4 separate regions of the Homo sapiens genome follow, and all the other regions are reported to be linked to region 1. The links are microRNA targets in miRTarBase. Many come from high-throughput screens and were not tested one by one. Region 1 holds a microRNA gene; each other region holds the end of a gene's coding sequence.
What was found. Region 1 holds the annotated microRNA hsa-miR-939-5p (UGGGGAGCUGAGGCUCUGGGGGUG, at 1,861-1,884, shown strand). A microRNA usually pairs through its seed, bases 2 to 8, with sites in the 3' UTR of a target mRNA and lowers its output. Matches are read on the target gene's strand: a 7mer-m8 pairs with bases 2 to 8, a 7mer-A1 pairs with bases 2 to 7 and ends in A, and an 8mer does both.

Region 2: miRTarBase lists DCAKD as a target of hsa-miR-939-5p. Seed matches in the 3' UTR shown: 7mer-A1 at 1,008-1,014 and 7mer-A1 at 1,549-1,555.
Region 3: the mRNA of GPS1 is a reported target of hsa-miR-939-5p. Seed matches in the 3' UTR shown: 7mer-A1 at 961-967.
Region 4: the mRNA of FAM53C is a reported target of hsa-miR-939-5p. Seed matches in the 3' UTR shown: 7mer-A1 at 1,869-1,875 and 7mer-A1 at 3,666-3,672.

Annotation. Positions count from the first base shown.
Region 1 is chr8:144,390,790-144,396,076 of GRCh38, reverse strand. MIR939 (microRNA 939) reads left to right here and starts at 1,847; the gene lies at 1,847-1,928. ADCK5 (aarF domain containing kinase 5) reads right to left here. Exons shown (of 15, transcript NM_174922.5): 5 at 5,021-5,221; 6 at 4,803-4,943; 7 at 4,603-4,716; 8 at 4,366-4,497; 9 at 4,211-4,294; 10 at 4,055-4,136; 11 at 3,907-3,985; 12 at 3,732-3,823; 13 at 3,380-3,632; 14 at 3,185-3,301; 15 at 2,835-3,108. The coding sequence ends at 3,003. It overlaps CPSF1 (cleavage and polyadenylation specific factor 1), which reads left to right. Exons shown (of 38, transcript NM_013291.3): 27 at 526-642; 28 at 722-812; 29 at 895-979; 30 at 1,054-1,195; 31 at 1,281-1,433; 32 at 1,522-1,698; 33 at 1,777-1,843; 34 at 1,917-1,964; 35 at 2,039-2,194; 36 at 2,281-2,410; 37 at 2,487-2,625; 38 at 2,712-2,846. The coding sequence ends at 2,759. RefSeq lists silencers at 169-382, 1,735-1,896.
Region 2 is chr17:45,020,065-45,025,351 of GRCh38, reverse strand. DCAKD (dephospho-CoA kinase domain containing) reads left to right here. Exons shown (of 5, transcript NM_001288655.2): 5 at 628-2,008. The coding sequence ends at 919. Among named protein-coding and RNA genes, the nearest start is that of DCAKD, 29 kb to the left of the region's middle. RefSeq lists a silencer at 2,971-3,320.
Region 3 is chr17:82,056,203-82,061,489 of GRCh38, forward strand. GPS1 (G protein pathway suppressor 1) reads left to right here. Exons shown (of 13, transcript NM_001321092.3): 9 at 84-189; 10 at 268-348; 11 at 427-564; 12 at 638-772; 13 at 851-1,268. The coding sequence ends at 925. DUS1L (dihydrouridine synthase 1 like) reads right to left here. Exons shown (of 14, transcript NM_022156.5): 8 at 5,007-5,151; 9 at 4,663-4,759; 10 at 4,499-4,581; 11 at 3,746-3,891; 12 at 2,579-2,616; 13 at 2,139-2,214; 14 at 1,304-2,052. The coding sequence ends at 1,913. Among named protein-coding and RNA genes, the nearest start is that of GPS1, 6.9 kb to the left of the region's middle.
Region 4 is chr5:138,345,809-138,351,095 of GRCh38, forward strand. It overlaps FAM53C (family with sequence similarity 53 member C), which reads left to right. Exons shown (of 5, transcript NM_016605.3): 5 at 894-3,921. The coding sequence ends at 1,151. Among named protein-coding and RNA genes, the nearest start is that of KDM3B, 4.2 kb to the right of the region's middle.

The DNA of each region.
Region 1 (5,287 bases):
CCACACTTCTCAGGAGAGCTGACGTGAGTGCTAGCTCTGCCCCTTGGCTGCTCTGTGACTTTGGGAGGGCACACAGGCTTTCTCATCCTGGTTCCCTATTTAAGCCACCACACCACCAGGTCACTTGAGACCCTGCCTGGGATGCGGTGAGTGCTTCCTGGGTGCCTGAGGACTCAGGACTGTCCATGAAAGAGGGCAGCCCTGGCTCCCTCTGCCTGGTTTTCAGTCCCCAGCATGGCAGTCTGTGGGCTGCCCTTTGCAGCCTCCAGTGCCCTCCTGGCCTAGCTTTCCCATCCCCTGTGGCCAGCACCCCTAGCCCCAGCTGAGCGTGGGAAAATGGACAGGAGGAGCCCCAGAGGCTGAGTGGCAGCCCCTTCCAGGACCTCGCCAGGACACAGCTGCCCCTCACCCACCCCTGCTCCCACAGAGCTGAGGGCAACATCCCAGGGCTCTTGGCGGCCTGGGCCTGCCTGCCCCTGCCCTTGGCTAGCCCTGGATCCCCTGACCCCTGTGCCCCCACCCCAGGGCGAGCTGAGGATCAGTGTCCTGCCTGCCTACCTGTCCTATGATGCCCCATGGCCTGTCAGGAAGATCCCGCTGCGCTGCACGGCCCACTATGTGGCTTACCACGTGGAGTCTAAGGTCTGCCCCCACCCCCACCCCACCAGGGACCTTCTGGGCCTGGCCGGGCCACTGGTGTGTGACCCTCACTAACCCACAGGTGTATGCTGTGGCCACCAGCACCAACACGCCGTGTGCCCGCATCCCACGCATGACTGGCGAGGAGAAGGAGTTTGAGACCATCGAGAGAGGTGGTGACGCCCACACCATACTCCCATCCTCAGCCGCATCTTGGGGAAGCCCTACTCTGACTGTCACCCTTGGTCCCCACAGATGAGCGGTACATCCACCCCCAGCAGGAGGCCTTCTCCATCCAGCTCATCTCCCCGGTCAGCTGGGAGGCTATTCCCAATGCCAGGTGAGGCTGGGCCGGCGGGGGTGGGGTCTGCCCAAGGCCTCCAGGCAGCATCCTGAGGCCCCTGGCCCCCACAGGATCGAGCTGCAGGAGTGGGAGCATGTGACCTGCATGAAGACAGTGTCTCTGCGCAGTGAGGAGACCGTGTCGGGCCTCAAAGGCTACGTGGCCGCCGGGACCTGCCTCATGCAGGGGGAGGAGGTCACGTGCCGAGGGCGGGTAAGGGGCCAGTGAGCGGGGGCGGGAACTGGCAGCCCCTCTGCCATCCCCACAGCCATCCCACAGCCATACCCATGCCCTCCAGATCTTGATCATGGATGTGATTGAGGTGGTGCCCGAGCCTGGCCAGCCCTTGACCAAGAACAAGTTCAAAGTCCTTTACGAGAAGGAGCAGAAGGGGCCCGTGACCGCCCTGTGCCACTGCAATGGCCACCTGGTGTCGGCCATCGGCCAGAAGGTGTGCCAGTCCCACCCGGCGTGTGTCCCCCGGCTCACCCTCACCCGGCTCCCCGTCCGCGCCCGCTCACCCTCGCCCTCGCCCCCAGATTTTCCTGTGGAGCCTGCGGGCCAGCGAGCTGACGGGCATGGCCTTCATCGACACGCAGCTCTACATACACCAGATGATCAGCGTCAAGAACTTCATCCTGGCAGCCGACGTCATGAAGAGCATTTCGCTGCTGCGCTACCAGGAGGAAAGCAAGACGCTGAGCCTGGTGTCGCGGGTACACCTGTGGCGGCGGTGCTCGTGTCTGGGTGGGTACCCGCCCAAGGCACCTCTGACGCCCCCTTCCCGCCCCCAGGATGCCAAGCCCCTGGAGGTGTACAGCGTGGACTTCATGGTGGACAATGCCCAGCTGGGTTTTCTGGGTATGTGGGCAGGGCCCTGGGGAGCTGAGGCTCTGGGGGTGGCCGGGGCTGACCCTGGGCCTCTGCTCCCCAGTGTCTGACCGCGACCGCAACCTCATGGTGTACATGTACCTGCCCGAAGGTGAGTGCTTCCTCCACCCCCTCTGCCTGGGCCGGGGCTGGGCTAGCAGTGACCCCTAGGCCTTTCTGGTCTAGCCAAGGAGAGTTTCGGGGGCATGCGCCTGCTGCGTCGGGCAGACTTCCACGTGGGTGCCCACGTGAACACGTTCTGGAGGACCCCGTGCCGGGGGGCCACTGAAGGGCTCAGCAAAAAGTCGGTCGTGTGGGAGAATAAGCACATCACGTGGTTTGGTGAGTGTGGGGGAGCAGGTGTGTCTGGGTGGGGGGCCCTAGGGTTGGCCTGGCTCACACCAAAACCCTCACCCTACCCCTGCCAGCCACCCTGGACGGCGGCATCGGGCTGCTGCTGCCCATGCAGGAGAAGACCTACCGGCGGCTGCTGATGCTGCAGAACGCGCTGACCACCATGCTGCCACACCACGCCGGCCTCAACCCCCGCGCCTTCCGGTGAGCCCCGGCCCCGCCCCCGTGCAGCACCCCCTCCACCCCAGCCTGCCCTGACACCTGTGCCTGTACGCCCCAGGATGCTGCACGTGGACCGCCGCACCCTCCAGAATGCCGTGCGCAACGTGCTGGATGGGGAGCTGCTCAACCGCTACCTGTACCTGAGCACCATGGAGCGCAGCGAGCTAGCCAAGAAGATCGGCACCACACCAGACATAGTGAGTGCGCGCCCCGCCCCCCGCGCGCCCCGCCCCTCCGTGTGCATCCCCACCCACCCACCCACCCACCCTTCCATCCCCTGCAGATCCTGGACGACTTGCTGGAGACGGACCGCGTCACCGCCCACTTCTAGCCCCGTGGATGCCGTCACCACCAGCACACGGAACTACCTCCCACCCCCTTTTTGTACAAAACACAAGGAAAAACATTTTTTGCTTGAGAGGAGTGTGTGGTCATTACACGGCCTCCTGGCCCAGCTGCTGTCACAGCCCCCCAGTGCGAGTGCCCACGGGGCTCGGGGTGTCTACACCTCTAGCCCCGCCACCTCCGTCAGCCCAAGGTGAAAAGGGCCCCGCCGGCCCTGGGCGGCTGCACCCTAGGTCTCCAGGTACTGGTAGAGCTCCTCCGCTGGGGGCACGAGGCTCAGGTGGACCAGAGCACGAGCCAGGAGGGCGGTCAGCCGCATGGCCAAGGTCTCCAGCCTGCGTGGGTCAGGTCACAGGTCACAGGTGGGTGGGGAGCAGGCCCCCGCCACCCACCTGCCCCGCGGCCACTCACCTGAGCGCCACTTCAAACTTGAGCATCTCCCAGACGACCTTGGCGTGGCGCAGGAGGCTGGTGCCGTAGACACCCCGATACGTGGCGCCCGCCAGGCGGCTCCAGCCCCGGACAGCCCTGCACACACCCGCGTTAGCGCCGCGTCAGCCCCACACCAGCCCCACCACGGCCCGGGCGCCTCCTCGGGCCACCGACCTTTTAGCCATAAGGAAGTAGCGGTCCACGGGGGCGCCGAGGGCCACGTTGATAGCGCGCACGGTGTTGATGTTGCGCAGCACCAGCAGCATGGGCCGCGGCAGCTCCCTGAGCACCGCCATGACGGCCTCGAAGCGCTCGCGGGCCATGTCCACCATGTAGGCCGCCTCTTCGCGGCTCAGTAGGTGCGAGCCCCACAGCTGCCCCAGGCGCACGGGGCGCTGCATGAGCATCTCGGCGAACAGGAGGTAGTCTGGGGAGGGAGGGAGGGAGGGAGGGAGGGGGCTCTGAGTGGGTTCCGCGCCGCCCGACTCCCTTCTGTGGTGCCCCAGCCATCCCCGCACGCCCTCACCTTGCACCCCCAGTGCGGCTGCGTGCGCCCTCATGGCGGCGTCGTCCCGCAGGATGATGGCCCGCCACAGCTGGCAGAGGGCTGCGCGGTCCCTGGGTGTGGATGGGCCCGCAGCCATGAGCTCCCTGCGGCAGGAGAGGCTTGCCCTGCCCCACGCCCACCCACCCGCGCTCACTTCTCCTCCAGGAACTGGTAGAGCCCGTGGTCCAGCAGCACCAGCTCCGCTTTCCCGTCCGGGCCTTTCCGCACCAGAACTAGGGATACAGCCTCTTAGGTCGCGCTGCGCCCACCCTGAGACCCCCACCCCTGGGGTAAATTCCTACCGTTGCCAGGATGTGGGTCCGAGTGGATGAAGCCGGTGTAAAATATCTGCTCAGCAAAGGCCTTGATGAGCTTTTCTGCTATCTGGGGAGAGGAGAGGCATTGCAGTGGACACAGCACCAGCCCGCCCTGACCCGCCCCCGCCCCCCCGCACTCACGTCATGCACTGCCAGCCCCTGGCTCCTGATGGCCTCCACATCGTTGACCTTGCAGCCGGCGCAGAAGTCGGCAGTGAGCACGCGCTGGGGAGAGCAAGAGGCTGGGCTCAGCAGGCCCAGCGCTGTGCCCACCCCAAGGGCCTGGCCCAGCCCACCTTGCTGGACTTGTCCCAGTGCACGCGGGGCACCACGACGTAGGGGAAGTGCGCCAGCTCCCGCGCACAGCGCTCTGCGTTGCGGCCCTCATTCTCGAAGTCCAGCTCCTGGGCCAGGGTCCCCTTCAGGTCCTGGGGGCCAGATGGCGGTTGAAGACCAGCTCTGCCTACCAGCTGCTCCTACCAGCTCTGCCTACGTGTTTGCTCCTGCTGGCCGGGGAAGGGGTGGGGCTGTACCTGGAGGACCCAGCTGAAGCCAAAGCTGGGGTGCATGACCTCAACGAGCCGCAGCAGGAGCTCCAGGGTGTGGATGTCCCCATCAAAGCGGTCCCGCAGGTCGATGTACTGCACCTGCACTGGGCGAGGGTGTGGTGAGAACTTGGGGCCCCACTGTGCCCCGCCCCAGCCCACTGCTGAACAAGGCAGCCCCCATATACCTTCACAGCCACGCTGGTGCCATCGTGCAGCTTGGCTCTGTGCACCTGTGCCAGGCTGGCGGCAGCAATTGGCTGGTAGTCAAACTCCTGGAAGAGCTCGTGGGGGAGGGCCTGGAAGTCCTCAAGGAACAACTCATCCACCTGGAAGGACAGGTGCTCAGAGCAGCCTGGGGCCACTGCTGGAGGCCCCACCTCCCTCGGCCTGAGCGCACACTCACCTCCTGGAAGCCCCGCTTGAGGGCCCTGTCCTCTAGCACGCGCAGGGTCCGGGTATACTCGGGGGGAAGCAGGTGGTTGAAGGAGCACAGCCCCTGGCCCAGCTTCACGTAGAGGCCCCCGTTGCTGATGGCCCCTGCCACCAGGGCATCAGCCGCCCGCTGGTGACACGCAGACATCACCTCCAAGTAGCCTGGGCTGTTCTGACCACAGGCATGGGGAGAACACATGGGGACAGGTGGCTGCCTCCTCAGTCCCACCCAGCCCAC
Region 2 (5,287 bases), not on the chromosome of region 1:
GGCTTGTCTGTCCCACATCATCAGTGGCATTAAGCACAAGAGATACCATCTTAGCACAATCCTTTTACTCTAAATGTTCAGGGGAGGGGTATAGCAGCAAGGAGAGGGGGTCTCTGTGATGGCCCAAGGAGGTATTTTTGATACTGAAGACCCAGGCCCCCAGGGGAACTGCAGGAAGCGTCTAGCTCATAGGCATAGGCCTTTCAGTAAAGGTCACCCATCCAGGGATCCAGGATGTAGCTGGTTCCAGGTGATGAAATCTTCCCACCTTATGACTGGGGAATGTCAGGTCTAGTAGCAAAGCAAAGAGACCCCAGATGGCAAAAAAAAAAAAAAAAAAAAGAGCTGTGGCCAAAGTTCCCCCCTTGTTTGTATTAAGGGGCTTCCGTAGCCCATAGAGCTCTGGGTTCCTCACAGTGAGTGGAGTGGGGTGTGAGGCAGCCAGTGAGCTTCCAAGCCTCCCTCCCTGGCTGTGGGACCCTAAGTAGCCCAGAGCAGGGTAGGGTTGGAGGGAAGATCCAGTCCCCATGCTCTCTGTTTCAGGCTGGGCCTGGCAGGGCTGCCTATCCCTGTAACTTGGGGTGAGAGGGAGGCAGGACCTACAGTGCCCTTTTGCCCTATCCTTAGCGACCGGGACACACAGCTGGCACGGCTGATGCGGCGGAACAGCCTGAACCGCAAGGACGCAGAGGCCCGCATCAATGCCCAGCTGCCCCTGACAGACAAGGCCCGCATGGCCCGCCATGTCCTAGACAACTCGGGCGAGTGGAGTGTCACCAAACGCCAGGTCATCCTCTTGCACACTGAGCTGGAGCGCTCCCTGGAGTACCTGCCGCTGAGGTTTGGGGTCCTCACAGGGCTCGCTGCCATTGCCAGCCTCCTCTACCTGCTCACCCACTACCTTCTGCCTTACGCCTAGTGGGGCACTCAAGGCAGGGAGCCCCAGGCCTCCATCTATCTCCTTGGAGGCTGAAGCCAGGTAACACATCCTGTTTCCTCTCAGCCCCCTCCCCACACACACACACACACACACACACACACACACACACACACACACACACACACGGACTCTCCGAATCAGGGCTGGGCCTCTGTGCCAGGCCATCCCGTCTTTGGAGTGTATCCTATTTGAGATCAAGAAATAGCCTGCTGTCCTTCCCACCTTCCCTGAGCAGCACCTACAGAACAGCAACCGTGATGGTGTGTGAAAGCAACAGTCAGAGACTGCTATACATTTCTGTGGGTGGGGGTAGGGAATACTGGCTCTGTGGCCCTCCTCAGAGCTGGGAGGCCAAGGGTTCACTGGGCTTGAATCCTCTCTAAGCACCTACCCCATTGTGGCCTAAACCTCCTCAGTGGACCACGGGAAATCATGTTGGACCAAGGGTTTCCATGTTCAAACAGTCAACAAGGCCCTCCCCTAGGTTGAGATATTTTTTATACTGAAGGCCCAGGCCCCCCAGTATGGCTTGCTGCCAGCAAGCAGCAAGGATTCTCTCGTGGGTAACGCTGTAGCCAGGCAGGACCAGCCTCTTCTGGGAGACCCCTCTCCCCACGTAGGGTTTGTGTAGTGCTCCCACATCCTGCTTATTGCCTGCCACCCCTGCTTCTCGCCTGGACCTCTTGGTATTCCGTGTACACCATCCTTGCTGTTTCTTGCCTCTGTGCCTTCAACCTGCTGCTCCTGGCCTGGGATACCTTTTATTTTCTTTTATTTCTTCTTCCTTTTTTTTTTTTTTTTTTTTTTTAACCTACAACTAGCTCTCAGTTCAGGCACTGTCTAAAGCCCCAGGCTGGGTTAGGTGGTCTAGGATACCAACTCCCCCTCAACATTTTACCTTAATCCAACAGTACAGTAATTAGCCGAAACTTGCCTGGTTTTTCCTACTAGACTGTAAGCCCTCTAGGGACAGGGACAGTGTCTTATTCATCTCTGTGTTCTTAGTGCAGAGCCTGGCCCGCTGTTGGTGTTTAATAAAGTGTGTTGATCTGAAATGCCCCAGACCAACCAAGATTCCCAGACTTGGCTTCTTCCCACACTGGGCTGGAGTCCTCCCGGAGCTCAGGGGGAGGTGAGGGCCCCAGAAGGTGCACTTGCCATCAGGCTTCTCCCTGGGTCCCAGGAGGACTGCAGCCAGGCCCGAGGCACCTTTGTGGGAGGTGGGTAGAGGGCTGAGGCAGCGTCACACCTTCTTGCCCCGCCTCCCCATCTGCCTTCCCCAACCCAATTAGACCAGCGCAGACATAAGCCTTCCCTGCCAGGGCCTGCAGACTTGCTGATGTGTTGATCCTGCAGCCAGAAGCCTATTAAGGCTAGAAATGAGTGTGACGGATGCAAATGCTGTGGTGGCCATACTTAGTGCCCCCTTTCCCAGAGCCGCTTGTGCTGAGTCTAGCTCATTAACTTGCTGCAAACCCCTAAGGGGCAAAGAAGGGCCGGGTAAGGCAGTGGTGGGCTGCCAGGTGGGTGGCCAGGCAGGATGAGGGTGGCAGGAGCCTGCCACTTCCTCGGTTTGGTGCGATCCGCCAGGACGGAGAAAGGAGAGGGAAGGTATGGACCCCCACAGTGCCCTATCACCCCAATAATTGAGGAAATGGCACTTCCTAGTATCGGCAGCATGCCAGGCACTGCTGGATGTGTAAGACCCTATAGTTAACATAACACTGATTATTTCCATCCCAGGCTCAGAAAGATGGATTTGGTCCAGGTTGCAGAGCCAGGCTTCTGAACTCTCTCCTGTGCCCTGAGCCTCTTGTCAGGAGGAGCTGGAGCCTGGGGTTGGGCCTTGGGCTCGCATTCCGGCTCCGCTTGCCATGTGACCTCCTGCCTTTAGTTTCTACTCATACATCGTTAGGCTTCATAGTGGAGGACACTGAAAACCCTTAGCAAACTGTAAAGTTCCAGAGAATTAACCTTCCCTGACCCAGTGAGCTGGGTTTGAAGCAGGAATGTCAGAGCATGGCAGGTGTGGAGAAACCTCGAATTCAGCCCTGCCCTGCCCGGGCCTCGCCAGAGCTCCCTCTCCAGCTCCTCTTGCCTCCCTGCCCCAGGATCCCCTTCCCGGCCTTGGGGGTCCAAGGCGGCCTTAAAAGAAGGACTACTTTCTCCGAAGGGGACTTGAAGTTGAGGCCGCTCAGCAACTGCAGAGGTCGGGCCTCCGGGACCCAGGCCCGCGCCCGAGCCGGCGGCCTGCCGTTCGGCCGGCAGGTGGCAGCACCCTCCCGGGCTGGGCCGGGCCTCCGCGGCGGGCGCTCGCCGAGCGGCCTAATCTTCCTCCTCCCAGGCCGCGGGCGGCCTCAGACTCCTGCCGAGCAGCTGCCGCGGGAGCACGGGCCAGGTGGGCGCGGAGGCTCTGCCTGACCCTGAGCGCTAACTCAAAAGGTGCGTTGTTCGCCCACGTCCTCTGAGCCTGGGCTGCGGGCCCTGGGTGCCAAAGGGCGTGTCCCCTGCCCACCCACCGCGACGGCGACGGGACCCTGCAGCCTCCGCGTTCCGTTCCCTCACTTTGGGCCTTAGCACCCGGAGCGGAGCAATAAGACACCAGCGAGGGTGAAGACGCACACGCCTTCTGGGCGGGGGACGAAGGGCGCAGGCAGGCCTCTAAAACACCCCCACCCCCAGGCCCGACTGGCCCGAAGGTCATTCGCAGTTTCACAGTTTACAAAGCACGTTCCAGTTATCCCCTTGAAATCTCCCAGCTGTGTGAGGCAGACAGGTCCAGAATTTTACAGAGGCTCAGAGGTTGAGCCAAGGGGCCTAAGTAGCCAACAGGTATAACCACCAAGCTTCTTGACTCCCAGTACAGTGCTCCTCCGGCTATCTGCACTGCCCCCATTATACACTTTGGCTCTTTAGTAATTGACAACTCTTCTTCAAATGTTCATTCTCTCTCTCTCCTCATGGGGGGCAGGGCAGAGGCAGGGAAAGGTTTAGGACCTTCCATGATGAGCCTCCATGGCTAGAAATTGAATGGGAGCAGGATAGGCGCGCTGCTGAGCGCCCCTAGTTCTCACCAAGGCACTTTAGGTCAGAAGGAAACAGTCTCAGAGCAGGAGGGGGAATGCGATGGCAGTGATGACTTCAGGCCATGGGGTCATATAGGAGTGGGCAGGGAGACCCCCGGACATGGTGGGAGAGAAGGAGCAAAAGGAAGGAGGTGATGTGGTGCTATAGGTTGCTTTCCTGCTCCTTCCAGGAGAGACGTGGCTGGTGGTTCCTCATCCCACCTGCAGAGCTGAGGCTGCACCCAGCTGGGACCCAAACCGCCTCTCTTTGCTCCCCACCTTCCCCTCCGCTCCCAGTCACTTAGATTCCAATACAATTTCCAGCTAACCAGCATGTCGATAGAACAAGTCGGGCGGCCGGATTGCTGGCCAATTACAGGAAATCATTCTGCTCCACAGCTCAGCGCTCAGGAAGGGAGAGGGAGGGAGGGAATTCAAGGGAGCAGGCGCCCAGCTTACAGGCTGGGAACGGGCTTCAGGCAGAAGGCTGGGAGTGCTGCAGCCCCCCACCCCTGAGGGGTGGGGGGTGGGGGAGGCTCCTAGGGGCAGGCCAGCCCTAGGCTCATCCTCAGCCTCATGCGGAGCTCTGGATCCAACTTCTGTGTGATGGGGAGATTGGTGCCCCAAGCCACTAAGAGAGACAGAGCTGGGAGTTGAGTGTGGTTGAGGGTCCGGCAAGCGAGGCATCTTAGTGTCAAAAGGGATAGAAGCCGAGATAGCAGGACCACCCTCTCCCAGAGCCCTATGCACCAAGGAGTGGGCATCTGAGGGCCTGGAGGCTAGGGTCCACACAAGCAAGACCTGTGCTCTAACAGCCCGCTGTGGGCCACGGGGTACCTAGGAGGACAGGGGAAGGGGTCGACAGGGAGCGGGAAGGAAAGGGGCCACAGCCCACAGCTGAGTGAACTAGCAGCAGCCTCATCTGGTGAAGGAGTAAGTCTTCCACCCTGGAAGGTGGGGCACAGAAATGTGGGAAAGGCCAAGGGCCCCCTCCCTCACCTTCCTAGCTCCTCTGCCTCAGCTCCTGCCTCTGGCCCTCAAGAAAATTTCACTCAGATGAAAGGACCCCAGCTCCCCTCCTCTTTCCTTGGATCTGAATCTACCTCTGCCTTCTATGCCGACCTGGATGCCTCTTTGCCAGCCCCACCTCCTCCCATCACATCTCTCCCAGAACTGTTCCTGTGCCCCAGGCTGCCCTACCCGGCTGACCAGAGATGCTCTGCCTGTCGCACAGTGGTGAGCTCTTCTTCCCAGCCCTTCCCCTCTACCCTCAAAGGACTGG
Region 3 (5,287 bases), not on the chromosome of region 1:
TTTGTCTGGGGACTGGTGTCCCACTGGCCACTTGGAGGGAGGGGCAGGCAGAGGACAGAGTTCTGAGGGGTCTGCCTCACCAGCTCCTTCAAGTTGTTCTTGGAGCTGGAGCCACAGGTCCGAGACATCATCTTCAAATTCTACGAGTCCAAGTACGCCTCATGTCTCAAGATGCTGGACGAGATGAAGGTGGGCCCCGCCTGGGGTAGGGGTGAGGTGGGGCCCTGCCTGGCCTCCTGTCCTGGTCCTGACCAGCCCCTTCCCCAGGACAACCTGCTCCTGGACATGTATCTGGCCCCCCATGTCAGGACCCTGTACACCCAGATTCGCAACCGTGCCCTCATCCAGGTAAGCGTGGGGGTCAGGCTGGCACACGGCAGGCGGGCATGCAGGGGGCTGTGGAGCTGACTTCCCTCTGCCCTGCAGTATTTCAGCCCCTACGTGTCAGCCGACATGCATAGGATGGCGGCAGCCTTCAATACCACGGTGGCCGCCCTGGAGGACGAGCTGACGCAGCTAATCCTGGAGGGGCTGATCAGTGCCCGTGTGGACTCACACAGCAAGGTGGCTGTGGGCTGCGGGGCGGTGGGGGCAGCTGGGGGTGAGCCTGGGCCCCGCTGAGCTTGTGCCTGCACAGATCCTATACGCCCGGGACGTGGATCAGCGCAGCACCACCTTTGAGAAGTCTCTGTTGATGGGCAAGGAGTTCCAGCGCCGCGCCAAGGCCATGATGCTGCGGGCAGCTGTGCTCCGCAACCAGATCCATGTCAAGGTGGGCTGGCTTGAGGGGGGGCAGGCGCACGGCGTGTGGGGCCTGGTGGCTGTGAGCTGCTCCTTGTCTCCCCTGCAGTCCCCGCCCAGAGAAGGGAGCCAGGGGGAGCTGACTCCAGCCAACAGCCAGTCCCGGATGAGCACCAACATGTGAGGGGTGAACCTTGGCCTCCAGGACATCTGCACCCCCTCCCCACCTCCACGGACCTCGGACCTCCAGGCGGCTCAGTGCTGCCTGCGGCCCAGCTAAGGGGCCTGGCCACTGGGTGCCACCCAGCCTGTGTGCCCTCCCTGGGGCTGAGGAGGCAGGCGGCTGCTAGTTGTGGCCCTTCCTGGAAGGAGAGGCCTGCAGGGCTCGACCCTGTGGGTTTCTGTCCCCAGGGAGCAGACTGTGCGGCACCCAGGCCCAGTGGCACCATTTCCCAGACCCCTCCTGTTCCCGCCTCAGTCAGGTGCAGACAAGTGGGCGGTGTCCATTAAAGAGCAGACTCAGCGTTGCTCTTGGCTGTTCTTTCCTGCCGTGCAGGCTCTGGTCACCCCTGGGTGGCCTTGGGTTCCTGAGGGCTGTCTCCCTGGGACTAGGCTTGGAGGCAGGGCCTGGTGAGAGAAATGAGAAGCCTGGCCCTCAGATTCAACAGCCCCCAGCAGCAGCCACTGTGGCCTCGCAGGCGGTGCTTCCAAGGCTGTGAGGCATCACGAAGCTCCCGGAGGCTTTGGCCACTTGCCTATGGAGGCGCCTAGGGGAGGTGGGGAGGGGACCTAAGCCCCCACTTTTGTCTACCCAGATGCTGCCTTCATTTAGATGTATCCTGTTGTTCAGAAGCCCCCACTGGCCCCAACCGCACCTGCCCCGGCTCATGCCTCCCTGGGTCTGAGAGGGCAGTGGTCACAGGCTGTGGGCTCTCGCATCTTTGAAATGATTTATTGTTCACTTTTGCACACGCGTGCTGAGGACAGGGCAGGTCCAGCCTGGGGCCTGCTCCCCACTGCAGCATTTCCAGGCCCCCAGAGTGGGCCGAAGGGGGACATGGGCGTGTCTTTCCACATTAAGTAGCAGGAGATTCCCTGAGTAAAAGGCATTTTCTTAAGTAGGACGTGTCCAGGCTCCAGCAGCAGTCCTGGGGGTGGGGGTTGTGGGCCTTCAGGCCAGGGCACTGCCCATGACTTCGGAGAAGCCACCTGGTGTTCCAGGTGCTGCTGGCTGAGGCTCCTGCAGCTCAGGCTGGGCCTCTTTCCAGGCCAGAGACTTCTCCAATTTGGTTTTAAAAAGCAATCCGTGACCTGGCAGAGCGAGTGAGAGGAGTCGGGGGTCAGGAGGCGGAGGGGGTCTGTTTGCCTGCTGCGGGGCGGGTGGTAGGCGCCCTCACCTGGGCAGTCTGCAGTCTCTTTGGAGGCTCGCTTCTTGCAGCAGCCGCGGCACAGGCTGAACACACATCTGTTGCCCTGGGCACAGGAAATCTCGGGAGCCTGTGGCCAGCACCACTCCCGGGGCCAGGCTGGCCAGCAGGGGAGCAGCCCCACTGGGGAAGCCTCTGCCAGATGCCCACGGCCTGGATGCAGCCCTGGGAACTGCTCCCAAGCCAGATGCCTCTCCCTCACCCCCACCCACCCAGACTCTCTTCCCCTCCAGGCCTGGGCAGGGGCTTGGCTGGAAGCAAGGGGCCGTCCTGAGGCATCCATGCCACCTTGAGCCACGTTGCAAACCCAGCTGGGCGGGCACCAGACCTGCCACCCCAAGCAGTGCAGAGACCACCCTGCCCACCCCCAAAGCTGAAGCCTTGGTGGCTTGCAGCCGGAACCCACTCACCTTTGGGTTTCCACACTGGTCACACTTTGCATATTTTGCTAGGAAAAGAACAAAAGGGTGCTGGTGAGTGAGGGCCAGGGTGCCCTGGCTGTGGGGGCTGCCCCGTCCGCCTGCACGGAGCCTGCTGATGGCGTCCATGCCAGCTGTGGCCAGCCAGGCCAGGAGGCTCAGGGAGGGCAGAGGATGCAGGCTGGCCACGTCTGCTTTTCCTTCCGTGAGCAATGGGTGAGGGGATGCAGGGGGCACCATCCTGCAGGAAACGGATAGGAAGCAGGTGGGCTGGGGGGCCGCCGCAGGACGAGCAGCCTTATCTGTCCTACCCCCAGGCAGGGACAAGGGGAGCAGTTTTCCTGCCCACAGGGTCCAAGGGGGGTTCCATGCCCTTCAGTTCCAGGTCTCCCAAGCAAAAGGGCCAAGAAGGGTCAAATCAAGAATTCAGCCTGAAGCCCCACTTCCTGCCTCTCCCAGCTGCCTCATTCAGTGGCCTGGTGGGGGGCAGTGTGGCAGGCAGGGACTGCTGGCACCAGCCTGATGTGGCAGCTGCTCTTGGACTGGCCAGCGCCCTGGGGGTTACATGGGAAGGTTTCAGGGTTATCGCTGGTCTCCCCTGCAGCTTGTAAAGTTGTCAGAGATCTGGGAGGCTGCCACCTGTTGAGGGCCCAGATGGGCTGGCCCAGGATACGGCGGCGACCAGGGGTCTCAGGGGAGACAGCACTAGGCTGAGGCCTTGCCACTGGTGGCTAAGAGAGGGGCGAGCAGCCTCGTCCCGTGCCTTTGGCCCAGCAACAAGACCCATGCACACACTCCCGGGGACCCCAGCCTCCCTCTCAGCAGCTGCTCAGGTGTCCTGTGTGAGGCTGGGCAGGGGCAGCCGCAGGGACCCGAGGCCCTGAGCTGTAGACGAGCTTCACCTGGCTGAAAAGCTTGTCCCATAGCCTCATCTGATTCACTGAGCCCATGTCCCACATGCACGGGCTGTGGCCTGCACAGGGTCCCCGTTCTGACCCCAAGTCTGGCTGACTACTCCGCCAAGCCCTCCAGGTGTCTGCTTCCAGCTCTGGGCCTTGAGCCTTGCTGACCACAAGTCTGGGTTCCTGTTACTGGCAACAGGGAGGATGGGGGTGATGAAGAGGCTCTCTCGGGCCCATCAGCGGAAGCAGCACTTACGCTTCAGAGAGGGGTCGAAGGTCTTGTGGGGGTTCCTCAGCTGCTTCTTTTGCTTGTTCTTGGACAGGACCTCCGTGCCACCCTCCTCTTCCTCCAGGGCCCGCTTGCTGCGCGCACCTGCCTTCTCCTTGCTCCCCTCCCTGGGCCTGAGGGGAGGGCAGCGGGCAGAGCCCAAGGACACTGTGAGAGGGGCCCAGCAGCCACAGCCACACGGGTCTGAGTCTGGGTGAGGGGCCAGGCGGCCGTGGCGAGTGCCGCTGCTGTGAGGAGTGCCCTCCTTTCCCTCGGGCAGCCCATTCAGGACTCGTCACTAGGGAGTCCGGGGCCTCTGAGATGGAGTCCGCAGCTCGGGCAGCCCCAAGCTCTGAACCACCAGCTCCAGGGAGGGCTGTGGCCACGGATGGCCTCACCTCTGAGAACCCAGCAGAAGCTGGGGTCAACCTCTTGACCCACGGGCAAATCCACCAGGATCAGAGGAGCTCAGAGAAGTATGTTATGGAAGAAAAGATTTAAAATCCGAGCGTCCACTGAGGGAGGACACAGCTGAGCCACCAGCATCCTCCACCAAGGACACCGAGGGGCACGTGGAAGGTGTGTGCTGCTCGGAGCCGAGGCCTCCCTCCTCCTTTCCCTTGGGCAGGAGATGACTGACCATAATGGCTGAGGACAAGCAGGGCAGGCGCAGCACTGTGGGCACAGGGTGGAGCCCACACCTTGGTGCACATCCCCGCCCAGGGCTGGCTGGGCTCTCACCCCGGCCGGATGTAGGGCTGGCAGATCCAGTGGAAGGGCAAGTCGCCGGTGGGCTTCGCTCCCTCCTGCCTGGATATCTCCTCCTGCAAAAGCCCAAGGCCCTGGTCATGGCCCCAGCCCCTCACCCCCTGCAAGGCCGGGCTCCCACCAGCCCCAGCACCTGCCTGACACCGCAGCTTCAGCTCCTGGCTCACAGCAGCGATGCCCTCCAGGGTCTTCACCTTGGCCAGCTCCTCTCGCAGCTCCTGGTGCACCTGCAGCCTGAGACAGAGGCCCTGTCACGCAGGCTGGGCTCCCGGCTCCACCGTCAGGCCCCAGGCTGAGCACTGGGCACACGGGGACCTGTGTCTCTTCCTGCCCAACTCCACTCCTAAGTCACCCCAGCCCCTCAAGACCTGACTTAGCAGCAAGTTGTTTTGACAAAACCTGCAAAATGCCCCAGGTGGGGTCTGACGGAATCTGCCTGGGCGGCCCTCCAACGTGGCTTCTGCCTTAGGGGGCAACTCACGTGTGGTGCCACAGCTTGAAGAGGTGGGCCCGGACGTAGGACAGGGGGCAGGGGTGCTCCCGCACGATGTCCAGATACTCCTCGGCCAGCTCCCACACGGCAGGGCTCCGGCCCTCGAACAGGGCGGGGTTGTGCAGGTTGCCCTCTGTGGGAGGAGGAGCGGGGAAGGACACCTCGTGGGTTGCTCCAGGTGGACGGCACAGGAAAGCCTGGGACACTCAGGACACCCTTCTGTGCCACCTCACAAGGGACAAGGCCAGCTCAGGCCCATCAGAGCAGAC
Region 4 (5,287 bases), not on the chromosome of region 1:
GAAATGCCTTAATCCTGGGAGTTAGAGAAACTGGGGTGAGACCCATGTTAAACCTTCCAACAGAGATCCCAAATTGTCCTGCAAGAGGTACTTTCCCTCCTTTCCAAGAATGCACAAGCTGCAAAAAATTCCATCAGTACCTACTCCTTGTGCCCAAAGCTGTTTTTGCCACTTGCCTGTCACTGCTTCAAAGTGGGTCTGTGAGGGCTGAAGCAAGATGGGCTGCTACAGTGTATTCATCTGTTAGACAAATGTTTTTTGACTTCCTGGTGTGAGTACAATTATTGTATGTATGCACTTTGCTCACTTTTTTCATATTATTCTTTCTAGACCACTAGGTTACAAACCTCTTTAAGAATTAATTAATTTTTTCATACAGTCGTCCATCCCATCTGCAAACATTTACTGACTCTGACTAGGCACTGGCAGTACAAAGTAATGAAACACTGCAGATGATGTTCCTGCCCTCACGGAGCTTCTATTCTTCAATTCAATGGAAACAATGGGCTCCAAATTTTGTCAGAAAGTTTACAAACGCCAGGCATGGTGGCTAACGCCTGTAATCCCAGCACTTTGGGAGGCCAAGGCAGGCGGATCATGAGGTCAGGAGATTGAGACCATCCTGGCTAACACGGTGAAACCTCGTCTCTACTAAAAATATAAAAAATTAGCCGGGCGTGGGCCGGGCACCTGTAGTCCCAGCTACTGGGGAGGCTGAGGCAGGAGAATGGCGTGAACCCGGGAGGCAGAGCTTGCAGTGAGCCAAGATCACGCCACTGCACTCCAGCCAGGGTGACAGAGTGAGACTCCGTCTCAAAAAAAAAAAGTTTACAAACCTCACCCTAAAGAATTCTTGCCTTCAGGTGTAACTGTCTTCTTTGTTTGTTTGACAGAAACCATACTCAGGAGGTCTTTGTCTCCAAGAAACAGCCCGGGAAGGCAGCAGCATCTCTCCACCATGGTTCATGGCCTGTAGCCCCCCACCCCTCTCTGCTTCCTGCAGCCCCACTGGGGGTTCCTCCCAGGTGCTGAGTGAAAGCGAAGAGGAGGAGGAGGGGGCTGTGCGGTGGGGTCGGCAGGCGCTGAGCAAGCGGACACTGTGCCAGCGGGACTTTGGGGACCTGGACTTGAATTTGATTGAGGAAAACTAAAACTGAGAGGCTACTTCCTGGGGCCACACAGACTGACTCTCTCATGGCTACTAACAAGTGTCGAGTCCCCAAGGCTGGGGGCCGAGCCTGGGAATGGGGGTGAGTGGAGGGCTCCGACTCAGGGCAGCTGGAAATCTTCTCGCTCCAGCAAGCTCGACCATGCCAAGAGACTGGCCGGGACAAGATAAACGGAGCTGGTGGCGGGAGGGACAGCCCCAGAGCAGACCCTTCCTATGGCGGCCCTGAGTGTGAGTATCCCTGCCACCAAGAGAGCAATGGGCAGGGAAGGAAGGGGTCTGCCGACCCCAGCTCGGGGAATTTCACTAGCCCCTTTGCTTCAAAGGGCACTTGTGTCTTAGAATTTGGCCAGGGTGGGGGGTTGAGTCAGCCTCCTCAGAGAAACTGCGTGAGAGTGTGTGCGTGCATGGGAGTGTACTTGTGGAAAGGTGTGTTTGCGTAGCCTTAGGGAAGGAAGGCAATTGCTCCTTAACAGCAGAGTATCATGATACCCCCAGGATCTTGAGTTTTTTACAGGATGTTGGGTTTGCTCAAGGAGTCAAGAGGAGGGCACCAAGTTTTCCTTTTTTCTAAATAGCTCTGGAACCAGGCTTGTAATCCATAGCATCACCGACTCTGCAAAGGATTTCATTTTGGGGTACAGCAGGGTGTTTTAAGTGCTGTGACTTCAGCTAATGATCTTTTCTTCAGCCCCACCCCCTCCCCACTAGCTCGATCTAGTATATTGGGGAATGCAGGTGGGGGGTGTCACCATATTTTTTCTGAGCTGGCCTTTTTTTCTCATCAGATTGTCCAGGCTATATTCCACCTGCCTCTTTTGCCCTCTTGAGTAGAGTTGCACACAGCACATGGGCAACTGAAGCAGGGTTGAGGGGCTCTCTCTCTCTCTCCTCTGCTGATGGGACCCTTTTCCCCTCACCCTCTGCCCTTCTAAGTCATAGACTAGGTAGGAAGGCCCTATATTGGTCCCCAGCATCTACTGAGGCAGACCTGCAACAGAAGTGGCATTCAGTCCCCAGCAGACATGGGTGAGCTCACCCCAGCACTGCTGTTGGGAAGGTGACTGCAGGAAACCAATTCTTACAAGATCCAGGCCCAGCCTTTTTGACCTGCTTGAGAGGGAAGAAGGGGTGTTTAGCATTTAATAGTTTGCTTGTCTTCCACTCCTGCCAGGAAGTGTTTATTTGCCTCTAATTGGGCCTGAGAGACCATAGGGAGGTTGGGGCTCACTGAGGGATTGGCTGAGGATGTATAAAGCAAAGGCTGTGAGAAGCAGTTGGGAGTTTGGTTGTCATTGGATTGAATTTACTTTTTTGTTTCTCACCCGCAACTTGAGCCAGGACAGCTGGTCCAAGTGGCCACAGTGATGGGTTTAAGTACCTTGGTAGGGCTGGCACCAGTGGAAACACATACTGAAGCTGCCACCACAATAGCTTGTGAGGTTTTATCCAGCTGTGGTTAGACCCTGCATGACCAAATTTGACCTGCCCTTGTTTATGGCAAGAAGGGCATTTTTCTCTTCAATTTCCAGGGTTTCCTAGGACCCAGTTCCTCATGTAAGGGAGGAAGACCAAGGTCTTTGTGTTTTCTTCCTCATGGAATTGAACCTGACATTTTCTGGATCTCCTGCATGTCAGGAGCATCAGTGAGGCTTCAGCCTCCTCGTCTCCACTCCAGAGAGGAGGTGGCTATGTCTTCTTAAGCCTCTGGCCCTCAGAGGCTCCTCCCTATCTCCTGGCTAGTTACCACTAGGCTACCAGGTCTCTAGGGGCCTGAGAGAGGCCCTCTAGAGAATCCAGGGAAACTGTGAGCCCAGGAGTTGCCCATCTATGGTTTCATTCCTCCCCTGGCTCTTCTCCCTCTTCAGGCCATAATTTCCCTGGTGCCAATTTCTTTTCCTCCTGGGGCATCCTCATCCCAGGGCTCTCTGCTGTAGATTGGCTGTGCCAGCTTCCAACAGGTTACTGGCAATGCCAGTGAGTTTCTGTAGGCCCTAAGCTGAAGAAGTGAGGCAGTGATTCTGCCTCCATCCTGGTTTCCCCAAAGCCCCAGGGCACCATCCTTAGGGGAGAAGGTCTACAGTTATCATTATTTTAATTCCATTACTTTCAGTCTGGAAAACTAAGCTAGTCAGAACTGTCATCTTGCTTCCCAATCTAAGAACCTGTGGCCCTGGAACACTTTTCAAGAATTGGTTCATTTTGCTTTACACAGTAGATCTGTTCCAACAGTTCTGTGTAAACCAAATGCTATTTTTCAATGCATTTGGACTGCTGACCATTTAAAAGCAGCCTATGATTGCTTCTTTTTGTAAAGCAAGCAACCTCCCTCCACTTTAGCTGTTTTGACTATTTGAATTTTCACATATTGGGCTTACCCAGAGTGGAGCACACCTCCAGGGCATGTGGCTGACACTGGGTCAATGTCTGCATCTGTGCTGTGTGTGTAGTGTGGTTGGCCAGTAGGTGAGTATCCCTGTGTGTGTGAGTGAAGCCACTCCCCAGGCTGGTGCTCTCCTCCTGTGCCCAGTGACTGCCCAGTGGCAGCTCAGCTGCCCTTCACTCCCACCTGCTGCCAAAGTCCCTGTGCTAATGGGATTACAAATACAAAAAGTGGAAAAAAATTTTCGTAAACTTTGTTTTATATTAAAAGAAAAATCCATAAGTCTGTGTGTGTTAAACATGAGGTTCTGCCTCTGTGGCTGTGTTTGAAAAAATAAAGTTTTATTAGAATAATCCATTTTCCCAAGCAACCTTGTGTACTACAGTGTCTTCTTCCCTTCCCCACAAAGACAAGGAAGAAGCAGGGTAGAAGGCCACCTAACTGTTCCAGCCCCTTCATCTAAGATGTGGGTCAACCTTTCAAAAAGGGGCAGTATTTGGACCCTAGGCCCTTTGCCGGCCATGGCAGGATGTTATACTGTGGCCCAGGCTTCTGCTAAGGCCTTGGTTATTTTTGGCAGTCTGGTTTGGTCTCTCTTTCCCTGGCAGTTATACTTGTCTCCTCCTGCCTGCTGTCACTCTCACTTCCAGCAAGTTGAAGTCAAGTATGAATGCATTCCAGCTCCCTGAGAAATGGTTTATGGTACAGTCAGGAACTTGTCTAGATTGGTTTGTAGGCTTTGGGAAGTAGGGAGAAGGCAGGGTGGGAGACAGCCAGGGATCTTTCTTAAGTTTTCACATGTTACATCCTGGAGAGATAGAGGTTTAGTCATCAGAATTCAGATTCCATAGACCTAGGCAATTTTTCCATCCTAAAAATACTGCTTTTGGAAAATAATCCTAGCTGCAAAGCTTCTCTTTTGTTGTAGAAGACAGTATTTTCCCTAATGTTTCCTTTGGGAGTGTTGGTTTGCCAAAAGAAGCTATGTGGCTCACTCTTTAGACCTTTCTGTTCCACCCTTTCTTCTCTCTATGTTGACATTCTTCCAATGTGTGTGGGTGAAGTGTAGTTGCTTAGAGATCCAGGCAGGAGCCTCTGTCTCTAAGGCTTAGCCTTTCTTTACCAGTTGTGGTGCTAATTTGCCAGGCAGCAAGAAGAGTCAAGTTGCTTAGCTTATGTCCTGGTTTCCTGCTTCAAATTGGTGGCACTCATCATTGAATACCAATGAAGTGTGTGCAGGACAGGACTGACTTGACTACCTGGAGCAGGAATCTTTGCAGGGGTGCACATACACCCTAGAAAAAGTGAGGGTTGTCACCTGCCCTGGAAACAAAGGAAGGGCTTTGGGGAAGTGGTGGGCAGTGGCATGTGGTTAAAGAAGCTTAGAATTACAGGGTTTTTTTTCTTTAAAACTGATGTTTCATTTCACCTACTGCTTGAGCAGGGGTAAAGTTTGAACATCTAAAATGACTTTGTTTCCCCCTTTTTTTCTTTTGAGTTTATTTTTGTTGGATTTTTCTGCTATTTTCTGTGAGGCCAAGTGTGATTTTATTTTTCATTCCTGAAGTCTTGTTAATATAGGAAAGAACGTAAACTCCATGAGGGCAAGAGTTTTGTTTTATTCAATATTGTGTCCCCAACACTTTGGGAAGTTCCTGGCACATGAAAAGTGCTGGTCACATTTGTTGAATGCATTTCCCTTTTGCCTTTCCCATCCGTGAACTTAGGTACATTTC